Regions from separate parts of the Homo sapiens genome. Here regions 1, 3 and 4 are each linked to region 2. The links come from fine-mapping of genetic effects on gene expression. A gene starts in region 2. Each other region holds a variant in brackets. All regions are shown on one strand. Distances are from middle to middle.

Region 1 (4,164 bases), 39 kb before region 2:
TATTTTCAGTAAAGCAGTTAGCAAACTTGCAAGATCATAACAACAAATATATGCTTCTATAACTCTAAAATTGTGCTTTAAGAAGTTCCTCTTTACCAGCTCATGTATGCATTAGTTTTCTAAGAGTTACTAGTAACTTTTTCCCTGGAGAATATCCACAGCCAGTTTATTTAACCAAAGGAGGATGCTTACTAACATGAAGTTATCAAATGTGAGCCTAAGTTGGGCCAGTTCATGTTAATATACTCCAGAACAAAAACCATCCTACTGTCCTCTGACAATTTTACCTGAAAATTCATTTTCCACATTACCAAGGAGCCAGGGTAGGAGAATATAGAAAGACCACCCAAGAATCCTTACTTCTTTCAGCAAAATCAATTCAAAGTAGGTAACTAAACACATGCCCTAACAATGAATAGCAGATTGTGCTCAGAAGAATGATCTACAACATCTTACTGTGAAGGAACTACTGAAATATTCCAATAAGACTTCTCTCCAAAATGATTTTATTGAATTTGCATTTTAAAAAATATTTTAAGCCTAAATTTTAAAAGGTTTGATATTGGTACATGAATAGACAAACAGACATGGACTAGACCAAGAATTAGGTTCAAACATATACAGGAATTTAATATACGATAAATCTAGTATTCCAAAGGAACCAACAAATGGTGTTCAGACAGCAGGATAGGCATCAGGAAAAACACAGTTGGGCACCCTACCTTACTCCTAACACCAGGAGTAACTGAAGGAGCACCAAATATTTATTTATTTTAATTATAGTTTTAAGTTCTAGGGTACGTGTGCACAACATGCAGGTTTATTACATAGGTATACATGTGCCATGTTGGTGAGGAGCACCAAATATTTAAAAGAAAAAAATTGGCCAGGGGCGGTGGCTCACACCTGTAATCCCAGCACTTTGGGAGGCCAAGGTGGGCAGATCACCTGAGGTCGGGAGTTCGAGACCAGCCTGAGCAACATGGAGAAACCCCATCTCTACTAAAAATACAAAATTAGCCAGGCATGGTGGCACATGCCTGTAATCCCAGCTACTTGGGAGGCTGAGGCAGGAGAATAGCTTTAATCTGGGAGGCACAGGTTGCGGTGAGCTGAGATATTGCACTCCAGCCTGGGCAACAAGAGCAAAACTTCAACTCAAAAAAATTAATAAATAAATAAAAATAAAGAAAGAAAAGAAAAAAATGAAAATAGTATAATTAGCAGAAGAAAACACCGTAGAATCCTCGGACTCTTAGGATGGGGAATGCCTATAATATAAAAACCCTGAAGTTATAAAAGAGAAAATCACCTACATACAAACCAAATCTTTCTACATGCCTAAAACATAGCACAAACACAGCTAAATAATCATAGCTGAATGAACTGGGAAAACAAAACTTGACTCATATCCAGACAGAGTTAATTTTCCTACACATAAAGAGTACCTATATAAACCCAACAAAAAAACCACCACTAACCCAAAATAAAAATGTGACAGGTAATGAACAGGTAGTTCACAGAGAATACAAATGGCTCTTCGGCACATAAGATGCTCAGACTGACTTTTACTTATTTATTTTTTGAGAGACAGGGTCTCACGATGTTGCCCAGGTTAGGCTCAAACTCCTGGGCTCAAATGATAGTACCAGGACTACAGGTGTGCCCCACCGCACCTGGCTCCTCAACCACCTGTATTAACAGGAAATGCAAAATAAAACTTTCAAATCTATTTTACCTATTAGAATGGCAAAAATTTGAAAAACTTCAAACATCATCATGTTGGTGAGAATGTGAGGAGACTGGCA[C/T]TCTCATTTTTTGCTGATAGCATATATATACTGATGGCTTCTATGGAAAGCAATCTGGCAGCGTCTATCAAATGTACAAGTGCATATATCCTTTGACAAAGCAATTCCACTCTAGGAATGTGTTCTATATGGTTGTGCTTCCTGGGGCTGGGAACTGGGAGCTAAGGGACAGGGGCAGAAGATAATCTTCTTTTCCCTCCTTCCCCGTTAAACATGTTGAATTTTATATACTGTAATATATTATTTTTCACAAAAGATAATTTTTAAGCGATATGTCTGGGAATTTTTTTTTTTCTTTTCTGAGACAGGGTCTCACTCTGTCATCCAGGCTGGAATGCCATGGTATGATCTCAGCTGACTGCAGCCTCGACCTCCTGGGTTCAAGCAATCCTCCCACCTCAGCCTCCTGAGTAGCTGGGACTACAGGCACGTGCCATCATGCTAATTTTTGTATATACAGGGTCTCACTATGTTGCCCAGGCTAATGTCAAACTCCTAGGCTCAAGCAATCCACCCACCTCAGGCTCCAAAGTGCTGGGATTACAGGCGTGAGCCACCGCGCCTGGCCCTGGGAATTCTTACAAAAGAAAAAATATCTACTCTCCCCTTCTATTAAAGTCAAAACAGAGAAGGAAATTCAACCTATAATGAAAGTAGAGAAGGGCCTCAACCCTGAGCAACAAACACAAAGGCTATTTCTGAGACAGGAATTTGCTGAACAAAATCGAGGGAAGATGACAAGAATCAAGACTCACTTCTCGGCTGGGCGCAGTGGCTCACACCTGTAATCCCAGCACTTTGGGAGGCCGAGGCGGACAGATCACGAGGTCAGGAGATTGAGACCATACTGGCTAACACAGTGAAACCCAGTCTCTACTAAAAATACAAAAAATTAGCCGGGCGTGGTGGCAGGTGCCTGTAGTCCCAGCTACTTGGGAAGCTGAGGCAGGAGAATGGCGTGAACCCAGGAAGCGGAGCTTGCAGTGAGCCGAGATCACGCCACTGCACTCCAGCCTGGGTGACAGAGCAAGACTCTGTCTCAAAAAAAAAAAAAAAGACTCATTTCTCTAGATCTTGAGCCGTATTCAAATTTATCTCAGCTTAGTGAGAGGTTAAAGCAAGGAATATCCTTCCCTGTGGGCCCTGCTCCTTACTGAAGGAAGGTAACGGATGAGTCAAGGACACCAATGGAGAAAAGCACTAACACCATTATCTGATGAACATTACGTGAAGAAGGGTAAGAAGTGAAGTGGAATTGCTGAAGAAGTCAGTGAAAGCGGACATTCATTTGGGGAAATGGAATATAGGAAATCCATAAAAGTGATTAAAAAGATGTTAGAGGCTGAGGCGGGGGGACCACAGGGTCAGGAGATCGAGACCATCCTGGCTAACACGGTGAAACCCCATCTCTACTAAAAATACAAAAAATTAGCCAGGCGTGGTGGCAGGCACCTGTAGTCCCAACTACTCGGGAGACTGAGGCAGGAGAATGGCATGAACCTGGGAGACGGAGCTTGCAGTGAGCCGAGATCACGCCACTGCACTCCAGCCTGGGTGACAGAGTGAGACTCCATCTCAAAAAAAAAAGTTAGATACGAGAGATAAAGATCCAACAGACACACAACTGCTAATTCTGAACAGAACAAAACAAATGGCACAGGAAAAGAAAATTTAAGATATAACACCGGAAAACTTTCCTGAAATTGAGTAACTGAATCTATAGCTTGAAAGGGTTTAGCATATGCCAAGAAAAATCAGTAGAGTCCAACCAGCACAAGACACATCTAGCAAGGCTGGTGATTCTACCAACACAGAGAAAGAAGTGGGTGACCCATAATGCGGAAAAAGGCAGACCATCTGCAGTCTTCTCCAGAACACTGGAGTCTGAAGACAAAAGAATGCTGCCTACTGAGCCAGAAGGGAGAGAAAGTGACCCAACACATCTTTACCAAGTTAGAATGTCACGCATTATTTAAAGGCTGCAAAAGCCATGAAAGACATGAAAGAACACAAGCATTTACAACATGAAAGAACACAAGCATTCTCATACTCAAGAATCCTTAAGAAAAATGTAGTCCTAATCCAGCCCACTGAAAGTTAAATGTACTTAATGTGCTCATTAATGGGAACTTCATAGCTTCAAATCAGTCTGGTCCCATCTACCAACATCTCTCGCCCGGCTTTCCTGCAATAGTCAGCACCTTTCCCTCCTCCCAGTCTTGTCCCCTGGAGTCTGCTCTCAGCATAGCAGAGTGACCACATCAACACCCAAGTCAGAGCCCTCCAGTGCGCACTGGTCTACAAAGCCCTTCCCACCCCCCACCCCACGTGCCCTCCGGATCCTTGTGACGTGTCT
Region 2 (4,164 bases):
TCGTTGGAAGGGTTGAAGTAAAAATACAATTAAGGCCAAATGTGAGGTAAGTGGAATGAAAGAATTAGAAGTCCTTGCCTTGTTCACAGGACTGATTAAATAAATGAGCCAGGTTTTCCATTCAAACAGTTAAAACTTGAACAAAATAAACTCAAATTAAGTAGAAAGATAAAAAACAGAAATTAATGTCATAGAAAAATAAAAAATCAATAGAATTAATCAATAAATCCTGGTTAATAAAAGCTGGTTCTTTGAAAGGATTAATAAAATAATCATTAAGCAAGTCTGATCAAAAAAAAAGAGAAAAGGTACCAAAAAAAGTACTGTATCAGAAAGAGAACATACAGATACATACAGATATGTAAGAGTCTGTTTTCTTACACCAGAATACTATATACAACATTATGCTAGCATATATTAAATTTCAATAATGTTAATGATTTTCTAGGAAAACAGAAAATATTAAATTTACTTTGAAGAAACAGAAAAACTGAGAAAAATAAATGATCATGAAAAAAATGAAAAGGTAATTAAATACTGATATTAACTGCCTAAACAACACCAGCAGCAGCCCAGGCAGTCTGCAGTCAAGTTCTGCCAAACTTGAGGGAACAGATAATTCTTCTATTCCAGAGCATAGAAAATGATGGAAAGTTTCCCAATTTAATCAGAGAGGACAGCCTGATCCTTGTTATGAACACAGATAAAAATGGGGTAAACTATATGCCAAACTCAGATACCAAAACCCTAAATAAGATGCTAGCTTATTGATGTGAACAATCCAAAAGTGCATTTTAAATTAGCCCAGGGTTTTAGAGAAAGAAAATCTAGCAATGTGACCACCACTTATGTTAACAATTTTAAGACGAAAATCTACATGATCATATCAATGCATGCTACACAAAAGCATTTGGGCAAAAAACCCAACACCCACCCTTGACTTTTTAAACTCTTAGTAATTAGGCATAAACAGAAATGTACTTAATGTGATAGAATACACTCGGTGAAGATACAGAGGGAATGCTCCCTAAAACCAAGCCCAAGACAAAGATTCCTATTTAACCTCAATAGTCAACACTGCAGCGAGAGTAATCTATGGAAGACAAGGAAAAAAGTAAAAACATGAGAGACATCTGTTGTTTAACAGACAATAAGATCACCTACTTGGAAGAGGCAAACGAATCAAGCGAAAAACTATTAAAACTGAGACAGGCTTTAGTATGGAGGCTCAGCTTCAGCTGTAGTTTGGGCTACCAAATTCAACTCGCTTGCTTGGAGAGTTAATCCTGCAAAGCTAATTTCTGTTGAGGTATTAGGATTGACAAGCCTGTGCTCCTCCCTCCTCCCCCATCTTCAACACTGAAATAACACGGTGTTTGGAACTGGATAACAGAATCTTCCAAAAACAAAAATTGTCCTGAAGGGCTGACTTGTGCCCTTACTCAAAAAACACTTTATCTGCTGCCTGCAGCTCCTACAGTTGCTGGTGGATAAGCCTGCCAACCAGCTCGGCGTAATTCTTCCTGCAGAGGGCAAGGAAGAGCACTTTCACAGGAAAATTTTTTTCCGAACTGTATGCCGCTTATTACATAAACTTACGTGCTGGCAAATGGAGCTCCAGCAAAATAAGATATTCAGAGTCAAACTTCCTTAGGAAAAAAAAAAAAAAAAAGCAAGCACATAACACTAATTTCCTTGCATGGGCACTGGGGAAGGAGGTCGTTACTTCCGCACGCCCGCAGGTCCGCACCACCGGGAAACCCACGGGCACCGCGCGCTGCCCCCGGGCCTTCCAGGTGCACTGCGCCGCGGCGCCCCAGCTGACCCGGGATGCGCAGCCCTAGCCCTTCCCCTGTCACCCCGGCCAGGAAGGGGCGGGAGCGCGGCGGACGCCGAGGGCGAAGGGCTTCTCGGTCCTCTGCACCACGCAGCACCCCCAAGGCACAACAGGGAGGGTGCGGGAGGCTCCCGAGACCCAGGAGCCGGGGCCGGGCGTGCCCGCGCACCTGTCCCACTGCGGCGAGGGCTGGGGTCGCCTCCAGGGCCGCAGCTGTCGGGAGCCACCTGGCTCTCAGTCCCGGGTCCCTGCGACAACCCTCGGGCCCGGAGGGGAGGAGGCGGCCACCTGCCGCTGCCACCTGCGGCACCGGTCCCACCGCTCCGGGCCGGGCAGGACAGGCCAGGACGTCCCTCCTGGGCTGGGGACAGGACACGCGACGAGGGGACCGGGGCCCCCGCGGCGAAGACGCAGCACGCCTTCCCAGAAAGGCAGTCCCGTGCCCCCACGACGGACTGCCGGACCCCCGCGCTCGCCCGCCCATCCCTTCAGACCACGCGGCTGAGGCGCAAAGAGCCGGCCGGCGGGCGGGCTGGCGGCGCGGCTAGTACTCACCGGCCCCGCTGGCTCAGCGCCGCCGCAACCCCCAGCGGCCACGGCTCCGGGCGCTCACTGATGCTCAGGAGAGGGACCCGCGCTCCGCCGGCGCCTCCAGCCATCGCCGCCAGGGGGCGAGCGCGAGCCGCGCGGGGCTCGCTGGGAGATGTAGTACCCGGACCGCCGCCTGCGCCGTCCTCCTTCAGCCGGCGGCCGGGGGCCCCCTCTCTCCCAGCTCTCAGTGTCTCATCTCCCTATCTGCTCATCCTCTGGTCGCACATAATCGATGTTTGGGCGTCCCAAGCCAGATGTGGACCCCATTTCCGCACTCTACACTGGAGGTTTTCTAAGGGTGGTGCCCGGACCAGCAGCTTCAGCCTCATCTGGGAACTTGAGAAAATGCAGATTCTCCGTCCCACCCAGCCTATTCGGTTTTTCCTGCACTAAAACCATGAAGGTGGGGCCCAGCAGTCCACATTCTCGCAAGCCCGTCAAGTGATTCTGAGGCGCCCTCCAGTTTGAGAGCTATGCTCACGGCCTCACCTCCGCCCCGCAAGGAGCCCGGTCTTGCCTGTGGCGCTAGCCGCACACGGACACCTCATCCTGCGGGGCCCGCCCCCCCGCTGCACCCTCACCGCCCAACGCCTCCTCCGGGATGCAGCGGAGGCGCCTGGAAGTCGGCAAGGTCAACATCCCCCTCAGCATCTTCCCTACCCTCACGGCTCCTCCTCCAGGGGTGCCTCATGGCCAGGGGTTAGAAAGAGCCACTGTGTTTCTTGACATGGAAGTGGCCTAAGACCTTAATGAAAACTGCAGGAGTGGAATGACAGAACCTTTGGTCATACTTGAGGGCGTGAAGCTCAAATGAGGAGGAAGGAAAGGATCCAGGGAGAATAACCAACCCTGGCAAGTTGTGGCGCCCAGGTAGAGGGGCGAGCCTAGGCTAGCGGTTCTCGACCAGGGCCGGTGTTGCCCCTCCTCGCCGCCCCGCGTACATTTGGGGAGGTCTGGAGACATTTTTGGTTGTCATGATGCGGGAGTTGCTACTGTTGCCTAAGTGGGTAGACACGAGGGTGCTCCTCAACATCCTACCTGAAGGACAGGACTGCCCCACAAGGAAGAATGATCCGGCCCCAAATAAGAAACCCTGGGCTGGTCAGCAACAACCCCTTTGTTCTGAGAAGAGAGGAGGAAAGAATAAAAGAAGTGGGGTGAAGTTTTGGTTTGGTAGAGGAAACTTGAAGACATTTTCACTGGAAAGGAAGAGAGGAAGAGGAGGGAGATGTCTGTAAGGACGAGCAAACCGGGTGACAGCTGATTTCCTCATATTGAAGTAATGAGTCCTAGTTATAATAAATTCCTAATAAAAACCCAGTTTATCCCTGCAATAAACTTGTCTTTTTTTTTTAAATATACTGCTTGATTCTGTTTGCTAATATTTTATTTACAGGCTTTGCATTGATATGCAAAAATGAGATGGGCAATAATTTTCTTTTTGAATGTCTAATGTTGTTTGGTTTCAGAATCAATGTTATGCTCACATCATAAAAAATTTGGAACCGAGGCAGGAGGAGTGCTTGAGGCCAGAAGTTCGAGACCAGTCTAGGAAACACAGTGAGACCCCCCCATCTCTACAAAAAAAAAAAAAGAAAAAAAAATGGGCATGTTTGCTTTTTCCTTTTACTCTGAACAATTTAAGGAGCATTAAAATTATCTATTCTTTGAGGTTTGATCATTTCCCAGTTAAAAATGTTCCTCCCAGCCTGATGCTTTCTTTGGGGAGGGTAAAT
Region 3 (4,164 bases), 64 kb before region 2:
TCCTCCTGAGTAGCTGGGATTTCAGGTGCAAGCCACTGCACCCAGCAAAAAATCCAGAAATTTTAACAGTTGCTTTAAAGTGTGGGATTAAGTCACTATTTTCTCCAATTTCTGAATTTACTGAAATGCCGTATCAGAGCATGAGCTCTGGATTGAGACAGACTTGAGTTCCCATCCTGGCTGCACCACTCACCTACCTGCCCACCCATCTCTCTGACCTCTCTAGGCCTCCACATCCTCAGCTATTAAGTGAAGACCAAAAAGGTAGCTACCTCATGGGGCTGCTGGGAGAATCAAATGAGATGATGTTGTACAGTGAGAGCTCAAAATTACTTAGATCATTTAAAAAAATGTTAATGTATTGGGGCCAGGTGTGGGGGCTCACGCCTATAATCCCAGCACTTTGGGAGGCCAAGGCAGGTGGATCGCCTAAGGTCAGGAGTTTGAGGCCAGCCTGGACAACATGCTGAAATGTTGTCTTTACTAAAAATACAAAAATTAGCTGGGTGTGATGGCATGCGCCTGTAGTCTCAGCTACTCGGGAGGCTATGACAGGAGAATCACTTGAACCTGGGAGGCAGAGGTTGCAGTAAGCCGAGATCAAGACACTGCACTCCAGCCTGGGTGACAACAGCAAGGCTCTGTCTAAAAAAAAAATAACATATTGGAAAAATAAAATTGGAATGAGGAATGATACTTCACAGGTGGTGGTTTATTTCAAATTCCAGGTTTTCAAATGAAAGTTTAGTATTGCTTATTTTGCACCCCCTCTCCTGCCTTGGGGGCTCCTCTGTTTAGACAGGCTTCCATGTTAACTCACTTGGTAAAGGAAAGGTTAAAGGAAGTGAAACACGGCTACTCTAAAACAGAACCACAGAGACACAGAGTCCATGGAGCTGAGCTGTAAAGGAGCAGAAGCAGCCACACCAGTGAGTTCTGCAGCTAGAGCAGCACCTTAGCATTCTATCGAGAAGGGGTGGAAGCCACATTTCCCAAGAAAACTTAGTGTGGACCTTCTGCACCGCTGAGCTAAACATTTTATACCTATAGGAAATTAGAGTCAGTGGGACAAGGAAATAAAAAGCAAAAACTTAATTTCTAGAAAATAGAGTGGGTAAGAGAGATTTTAAGGTATCTTCAGCCCTGTGATGGGATGTGGGGGAAAAACAATCTCAAGTAACCATATAATAAATAACTTCCCAGAAAAGCCACCAACTTTATCATATTATTGCTTGAAACTCTGCCATCTGGGCTTCACAAACATCTCATTTCAGACCCTAACACAATGTATGTATTGCCCAGATGTTGAGCATTGCGACATTATCAGACCCTCTGCCAGACGACAGGGCACACTACAGTGCTGATCTCCTCCAAGGGGAGATGACTCGAGAACGTTCCAGGGGCTAAGCACTAGTCGAGTGGGCGGTTCTCTCCACAGGACCTTAGACATCCCACACTTGGCAAAAGGAATGCACAGAAGCAGCCCTATTCACCCTGGATGGGAAAATAATCTCCACGCTGCTACTAATTAGTACCCACAGGGCTTCTTTTCTAAAGAACTTCATATATTAACTTGAAGTTGGCATTAATCATCCTTTCCTTGCAAGATAAAACAAGTGAGAAAAGATCATTTTCTTTCAACACGTCAAAAGGTGGGTTTCAAATCCTTTTTCAGCCCCCCAAAATCATGCATGTGGCATTAACTTATCCAGTCCATGCACCACGGGAGAATGTATTCACACTGCCTTAGTCACACCAAGATCCACTGGGTCTGTAAGACATTGTACCTAAAGCAGAAGCACCTCTTCCCCAGCTATCCTAAGATTTTCCATCTCTGTCTTAAATAATAACCAACGATGTACTTACTGCAAAAACTCTGCTTCTCCTGCTTCTCGGGAGCTGCCGACCTCAATCAGCAAGTCAGCCACTCTATTCTGGGTTTGGTGCTGGCCTGGGAGGAAAACCACACTCGGAGGGGGCCGGGCAGAGAGCGCTTGAGCAATGCTTCACTCAGGAAGCAGGCGGGCTCTGCTCTCCCCAAGTTCTGATGGCCTCTCCCCGTCTCTCTCCTGCCTCTCACAATCTCTCTCTCTCTTCTCTTTCTTACATGCATACATGCACAAAGTGCAAAATCATATTTCCATCCTACTTGGTCCTCAATGCTTAATTTGTACCTCTCCAAAATGTAAGGGTTTCAAGATGTAGGCTGGCTAGCTGCTGACTGCTCCCTGAGATATCAAACAGATTTAAAAACAAAAACAAAAACTCAGTCTGCTCTTCACAAATGGATTTACCCTGAAGCTTCAGCCACGCCCCA[C/T]CACCTTGCCATGACCCTGTGAACACTGTGAGTTCTAGGTGGGAAGGGGAAGTCGGGCTACAACCAGGAAGCATATCACAGCAGGGGCTTCTGGTGAGCCAACTAAAGGGATCTCAAAGGTAGGCATCGGAAACTCCTAGGCTCCAATAATTTGTTGCAATTTTTTTTCGTTCTAAATAAATCTTTTCATACTTAATTTTGAATTCAGGGAGCTCCAAAATGATATGGGCATCCTCACAAAGCCTGGGGTCCACGTTCCCTGCTACTACGGATGGCCTAGAGTAAGCCCCAGTGACAATGGGATCTACTGCAACAGGGACCAAATACACTGCCCAGAAAAAAACACCGAAGAAATGTTGTGAAGGTAAACAAGCAACATGTGTTATATCCACAGGCACCAAGAACTCTATCAGCGGGCCTGGGCTAAGCTTAGTCATTGCCACAAGCTGCATTTTAATTGCTATTTTACTGGATAATAGGTGTGGAAGGCAGCCAGTCTGCTCTTGCATGGCAGAGAGCTCTTATATAGCAGGTGGCATGGGTTTGCAGAGCCTCTGTGACATAGAATCCCCCATGTTCACTATAATTCTAACCTCCATACTCAGACTCTGTCATTCTAATGGACAGAGTGCAGTAAGGAGTTCAGAGCCGGCCTGGCCTGGCACGGCAGCCCCATGCCCCACCTGGCCAAGGCTGCTGCCTCTCATGGCCATCCAGCTTTGCCTTGAAGGAGACAACAGGCACAATGCACTGAACCTGCTCTTACTGAGGAACACCCACTCTCCTGGGGGGCAAGGGGCATACAGGGTCCTAACTCATCTGGGTGACTCCCCATGTGGCACCATGGCACAGACACAGGAGGTGGTAGTGGTTGGGACTCTGCAAATGACAGACACCTAACTCAATTTTGCTTAAGCAAAATGGTGAGTTTGTTGGCTTTACTGATTTAGGAAAGTCTAGGATGAATTCAGGCTGGCTTTAAGCCAGCTCTAGACCATGAGGTCCAATGATGTCATCAGGAATGGTTTTGAATCACCTCGTAGCTTCACTCTCCTAAGCTGGTATCATTCAAACACAGGTGCTCTGAGGATAGGAAGGCCTTGCCCAGCAGCACTGCAAGACTAGAGGTCTTTAGCATTTGAGATTCCAGATTAGAGAGTCTCTCCCAGAAAAGAGCCTGAGGTGATACACTGTCCAACCCATTGGCCGTGGAGAGGGACCTGGATGATTGGCAGCTCCACTAGTTATGGGAAAAGCAGTTTCCAAAAGGAGAAAAAAGGCTAGGCAGAAAAAAAGTACAAGCTAGTCACTCAATAGTGTCTCAGATTATTAAGCCTTTCATGTGATCATGTCTTACTTCCCTCATTAGACTGTAAATCTATTAATAGAAAGATACACACAAAATGTTAACAGTGCTTATCTCTCAGACTGAGTGTCATTTACTTTTTAAATTCACATTGTAGCTTCTAAATTTTCTAAAATAAGTATGTATTCAACTGTATAATAAAATAATATACCTAAATAAGTTATCACGTTAAAAAAAATCCTACTTACAATAGCATCTATAAATAAACCTGGTAAGAAAGTTACAGTCGCCCCCCAAATTCATGCTTTACTGAATGACAAAAAAGAAGACTGGATGAAAAGCATACCATGCTCTCCCAACGGATATTCATTCTCTGCAAACAATTTTATAAATGTGTTGTAATTCCAATAAAAATTCTAATCAGATTAGAAATATGAAGAAAATTATTTATAAAATTGTCCTGAAATTCATCTGGTAGAATAATTGATTATTCTCTACAGAAGCTATCAAGTAACTTGATTCTTCTCTAAAGGAGAAAATT
Region 4 (4,164 bases), 65 kb after region 2:
AACTTCTGGGGTTGGAAGTCCAGTGAGGCTAAAAGCCGGTACCAAAGTCTCTAGGCATCAGGGCTGCAGCCCAAGAGTCTCACGACCAGTGGGCAACTGGATGGCCAGACAGGTGTCTCAGTGGTGGCCTCTCCGTCTCAGGGCTTCATCCCACTTCTCAGTGGGCCTGACGTCCCTGGGCACCCTGGATGTCTACCTGCATTAGCCAGAGCCATCACATGGCCTGTGACTTGCCTTTTTTTGCCAGTTGATTGTGCCACACACAGTGTCATTTCTGTGTCATTTGGCACAGCTGGAGGTGCAAGGAGGAGGGCAGCCTCATGTCCAGTCCCAGTTTCACGTAACTTTATTCTTCTGAATAAAGACAATTTGCTAACCTTAAAAAAAAAAAAAAAAAAAAAGTTTTTCTTATATGTTGGACCCAAATTCTTAGGCTTTAACCTGAATAACAATGACAGCAAGATCAATAAATAGTACACATTTATTAAACACTCACTGTGTCCCAGACAATATTCCAAGCACTTTTTATGGATAGACTCATTTTAACTTCTAAAGAACTTTGTGGGATAAATACAGTTATTTTATAGATGAAGAAACTGAAGCACAGAGAAGTTAAGTGCTTTGTCCAGGGTAACAGCTCAGATATGGCAGAGTCAGGATTTGAAACTAGACCCTCACATACCTTAACTGCTGTGCTGTGGCAGTGTTTTTCATACTGTAGGTTGGGACCAGCCTTCTCTTATGCCCTCACCCCCTGCCAAAAAAAAAAAAAAAAAAAAAAAATATATATATATATATATATATATATATATATATATATAATATATATATATATAAAATATATATATATATAAAATATATGTATTAGTATATATGCATATATAGTATATATTATATATTAGTATATATACTAATATATAATATACATATTAGTGTGTGTATATATATATATACTAGAATAAAAAAATCAAAGTATCTCAGAGTAGTAAGGACAAACATTTCAGAAAAATGTTTTCATTATATATACATGTATGTATGTGTATGCTGATTCAACAAATATATTTCTTATAGGTTATAGCAAAATAGTTTGAAAGCTTTTACTGTGTTTTATCAGGAAGACCTTAGGTGAACGTATATTCACAGATAAAAGAGGTTATTTATTCATTCAATAAATATTACATTCTCATAAGTCCTAATATTATGTATTTTTATTCTTCAAAAAAGTTAGTATTTGTGATTTATGAAATAAGACATGTTCTTGCACTTTTAGCAGATCTGTCCCGATGTTGGGCTTCTTTAATCCTTAGTGTGGGTGCTTTGCACTCACTCACTGCTGGGGACAGCAAGACCCCTGTTAGTCTCAGCTGTGTTTCTTAAATTGGCCCACTGTACCTTCCAGTTAGCTATTCTGGGGTCCATGTCATGTTGGCTCCATTTTCCTTTTCTTTCTCCCACACAGATACCTATAACGGCTATAACATAGGCCTGGTGGCTGTTGGTGGCTTATCCCTATCTGCTTGTATTTAAGGGGTACTGTTTCACTGAGTTTTGCTGACAGATGTTGTCATGAGATTTGAGGTTTTCTGTGTTGTTGCTCTATTTTTATGTGGGAATTTGCTACTATCATCATCCCTAGACCAGCTTTTCCTAGTAATACAACAGGGATGTTCTGACTGATTAGAGTTTGCCTGTTTGAAGAATTGGTTGGCTAGTGATTTTTTTTTGAGGGGAGTCTGTACCAGTTAATAGCCTGACTGGCGTGTGGATAAAAAGGAAGCAGTTTCAAGTCAAATAAAACACTTAAAATGAAACCACACTGCAACTCTCTTTCTTTTACTTAAGCTTAATCAAATTAATGATGATGTAATCCCATGAAGGAAAAGTCTTCTGAAGGATCAAGTTGATAACATTTTGTGATCAA[A/G]GAATTTGAGAAAACCTCTATCCCAGTGTCTATCATTATATATTTTAGGATGTTAATTACCTGTGTGGCTTTAGGCAAGTCATTTTTCCTCCTTGAGCCCCATTCTTAATCCTGTCCAAATTATTTGTCTCCTCTTGCAGTTGGACTATTTTAATATAGCTGTCCTTCAAGTGAGTTTTGTTCAAAGGAGCCTTCACTTTAGCTCTTACTGTGTACCCACTTTGCATAGTCTTGTTTTAAATGTAATCCTTGGATTTTTGGTGTTGCTAACTAATTACTGTTTTTATGTGAGGATTTAGAGTGATCCAGAATCTATACTTGCACTACCTCCTTCATCTTCCACAAATGTTTGAAGTGGTAGAATTTTTAAAAACTTTGAAGGTACAGCTGACAGAATTTGCTGATGGTTTGGAAGTGAGTGGTATGAGAGGGAAAAAAAGGAATAAAGCATGACTGCATTTTTTGTTTGTTTGTTTGTTTGTTTTTGAGACGGAGTCTCACTCTCGCCAGGCTGGAGTGCAGTGGCGTGATCTTGGCTCACGGCAACCTCCGCCTCCTGGGTTCAAGCGATTCCCCTGCCTCAGCCTCCCAAGTAGCTGGGACTACAGGCGCTCGCCACCACGCCTGGCTAATTTTTTTTTTTGTATTTTAGTAGAAACGGGGTTTCACCGTGTTGGCCAGGATGGTCTCCATCTCCTGACCTCATGATCTACTCACCTTGGCCTCCCAAAGTGCTGAGGTTACAGGCATATATATAAGCATATAAAGTGTGTTATAGCATACAAACAGGTATATATATAAACATGCAGTCCACACAGCTGATAGGAATGAGGCAGTAGTGAAGGAGAAGTTGATGTAGGAGAGGGGACAGTTGTTACAGGAAAGAAGTCTGGAGGCAGAAGGGATGAATTCCAGTGCTCACATAGAAGATTGCTTAGATGGGAGCAAGGACAATTTATCTAGAGTCACAGGAAAGAATGCAGTACACGGGTAGAGATGCAGGTGAGTTGAAAGATGTGAGAGATGATGGAAATAATTTTCTGATTGCTTCTATATTCTCAAGGAAGCAGGAAGCAAAGTCCTCAGCAAAGAGAATAGAAGAGGTGTTAAATATTTGAGAAAGGAGATGTACTGTAGAAAAAAAAAAAACTCAGTTTCTCCTTCTGAACTCTCACAAAACAGAACCCTTCCATGACTCTAGTTGTGTGGGGTTTTTTCCCTGTCAGCTACCAATTCTGCAGATGATTGTTCAGTGAACACCAACTGGGTGTCCTCTAAGTCAGTTCAGTTCTCACACTGTTTACCTGGAGATAGCATCAGATCCCACAGATTGAGGACTCTGTCCCACAAGACTGCCTCCACTTCAGATGCCAGTCTCAAGTACAAGTTGTGGCCTGTGCTTCTGACTGACCTTCTATAAATTGGAGTTCCCACAGTCCCCTCCTTGGGTTCAATAAATTTGCTAGAGCAGCTCTCAGAACTCAGGGAAATGCTTTACATATATTTACCCATTTATTATAAAGGATATTACAAAGGATACAGATTGAACAGGCAGATGGAAGAGATGCATGGGCAAGGTATGGGAGAGGGGCACAGAGCTTCCATGCACTCTCCAGGTCATGCCACCCTCCAAGAACCTCTACAGATTTAGCTATTCAGAAGCCCCCCTCCCCATTCTGTCCTTTTGGGTTTTTTGTGGAGACTTCATTATATAGGCATGATTGATCATTGGCTATTGGTGATCAGCTCAACCTTCAGCCCCCTCATCCCGGGAGGTTGGTGGGTAGGGCTGAAAGTCCCAAACGTGTAATTCTGCCTTGGTCTTTCTGGTGATTAGCCCTCATCCTAAAGCTCTTTAGAGGCCACAGCCACAAGTCATCTCATTAGCCTTCAAAAGAATCCAGAGATTCCATGAATTTTAGGCGCTGTATGCTAAGAAACTGGCTAAAGGCCAGTTGCAATGTCTCAGGCCTGTAATCCCAGCACTTTGGGAGGCTGAGGCAGGAGGATCGTTTCAGGCCATGAGATCAAAACCAGCCTGGTCAACATAGTGAGACCCCCTTACAAAAAATTTAAAAATTGGCCAGGCGTAATAGCTCTTGTCTGTAGTCTCAGCTACTCAGAAGGCTGAGGATCACTGAGCCCTGGAGTTGAAGGCAGCAGTGAGCCATGATCGTGCCACTGACTCCGGCTTGGGTGACAAAGTGAGACCTTGTCTCAGAAGAAAAAGGAAAAAAAAAAAA

Direction of the effects. Alleles are on the strand shown, and positions count from the first base shown. SD is a standard deviation of normalised expression in the study named. Not every link is listed here.
As copies of G replace A in region 4, the expression in esophagus muscle of the gene that starts at base 2,458 in region 2 goes down (small effect, 0.33 SD a copy in GTEx).

What was found. PIP is the estimated chance that this variant, and not a neighbour inherited with it, causes the effect.
Region 1: its variant is fine-mapped to the expression of SPECC1 in whole blood (TOPMed, PIP above 0.99).
Region 3: its variant is fine-mapped to the expression of SPECC1 in whole blood (TOPMed, PIP 0.93).
Region 4: its variant is fine-mapped to the expression of SPECC1 in esophagus muscle (GTEx, PIP above 0.99).

What each region holds. Positions count from the first base shown.
Region 1 is chr17:20,046,837-20,051,000 of GRCh38, reverse strand. The region is part of intron 1 of SPECC1 (sperm antigen with calponin homology and coiled-coil domains 1); the gene reads right to left. Among named protein-coding and RNA genes, the nearest start is that of SPECC1, 40 kb to the right of the region's middle. The variant C/T (reference allele first, on the strand shown) is at 1,809.
Region 2 is chr17:20,007,653-20,011,816 of GRCh38, reverse strand. SPECC1 (sperm antigen with calponin homology and coiled-coil domains 1) reads right to left here and starts at 2,458. Exons shown (of 15, transcript NM_001243439.2): 1 at 2,393-2,458. SPECC1-DT (SPECC1 divergent transcript) reads left to right here and starts at 2,557. Exons shown (of 1, transcript NR_186461.1): 1 at 2,557-3,762. RefSeq lists silencers at 1,787-1,966, 1,987-2,656 and an enhancer at 3,089-3,656.
Region 3 is chr17:20,071,404-20,075,567 of GRCh38, reverse strand. The region is part of intron 1 of SPECC1 (sperm antigen with calponin homology and coiled-coil domains 1); the gene reads right to left. Among named protein-coding and RNA genes, the nearest start is that of SPECC1, 64 kb to the right of the region's middle. RefSeq lists an enhancer at 1,754-1,973. The variant C/T (reference allele first, on the strand shown) is at 2,318.
Region 4 is chr17:19,942,895-19,947,058 of GRCh38, reverse strand. The region is part of intron 5 of AKAP10 (A-kinase anchoring protein 10); the gene reads left to right. Among named protein-coding and RNA genes, the nearest start is that of AKAP10, 33 kb to the left of the region's middle. The variant A/G (reference allele first, on the strand shown) is at 1,922.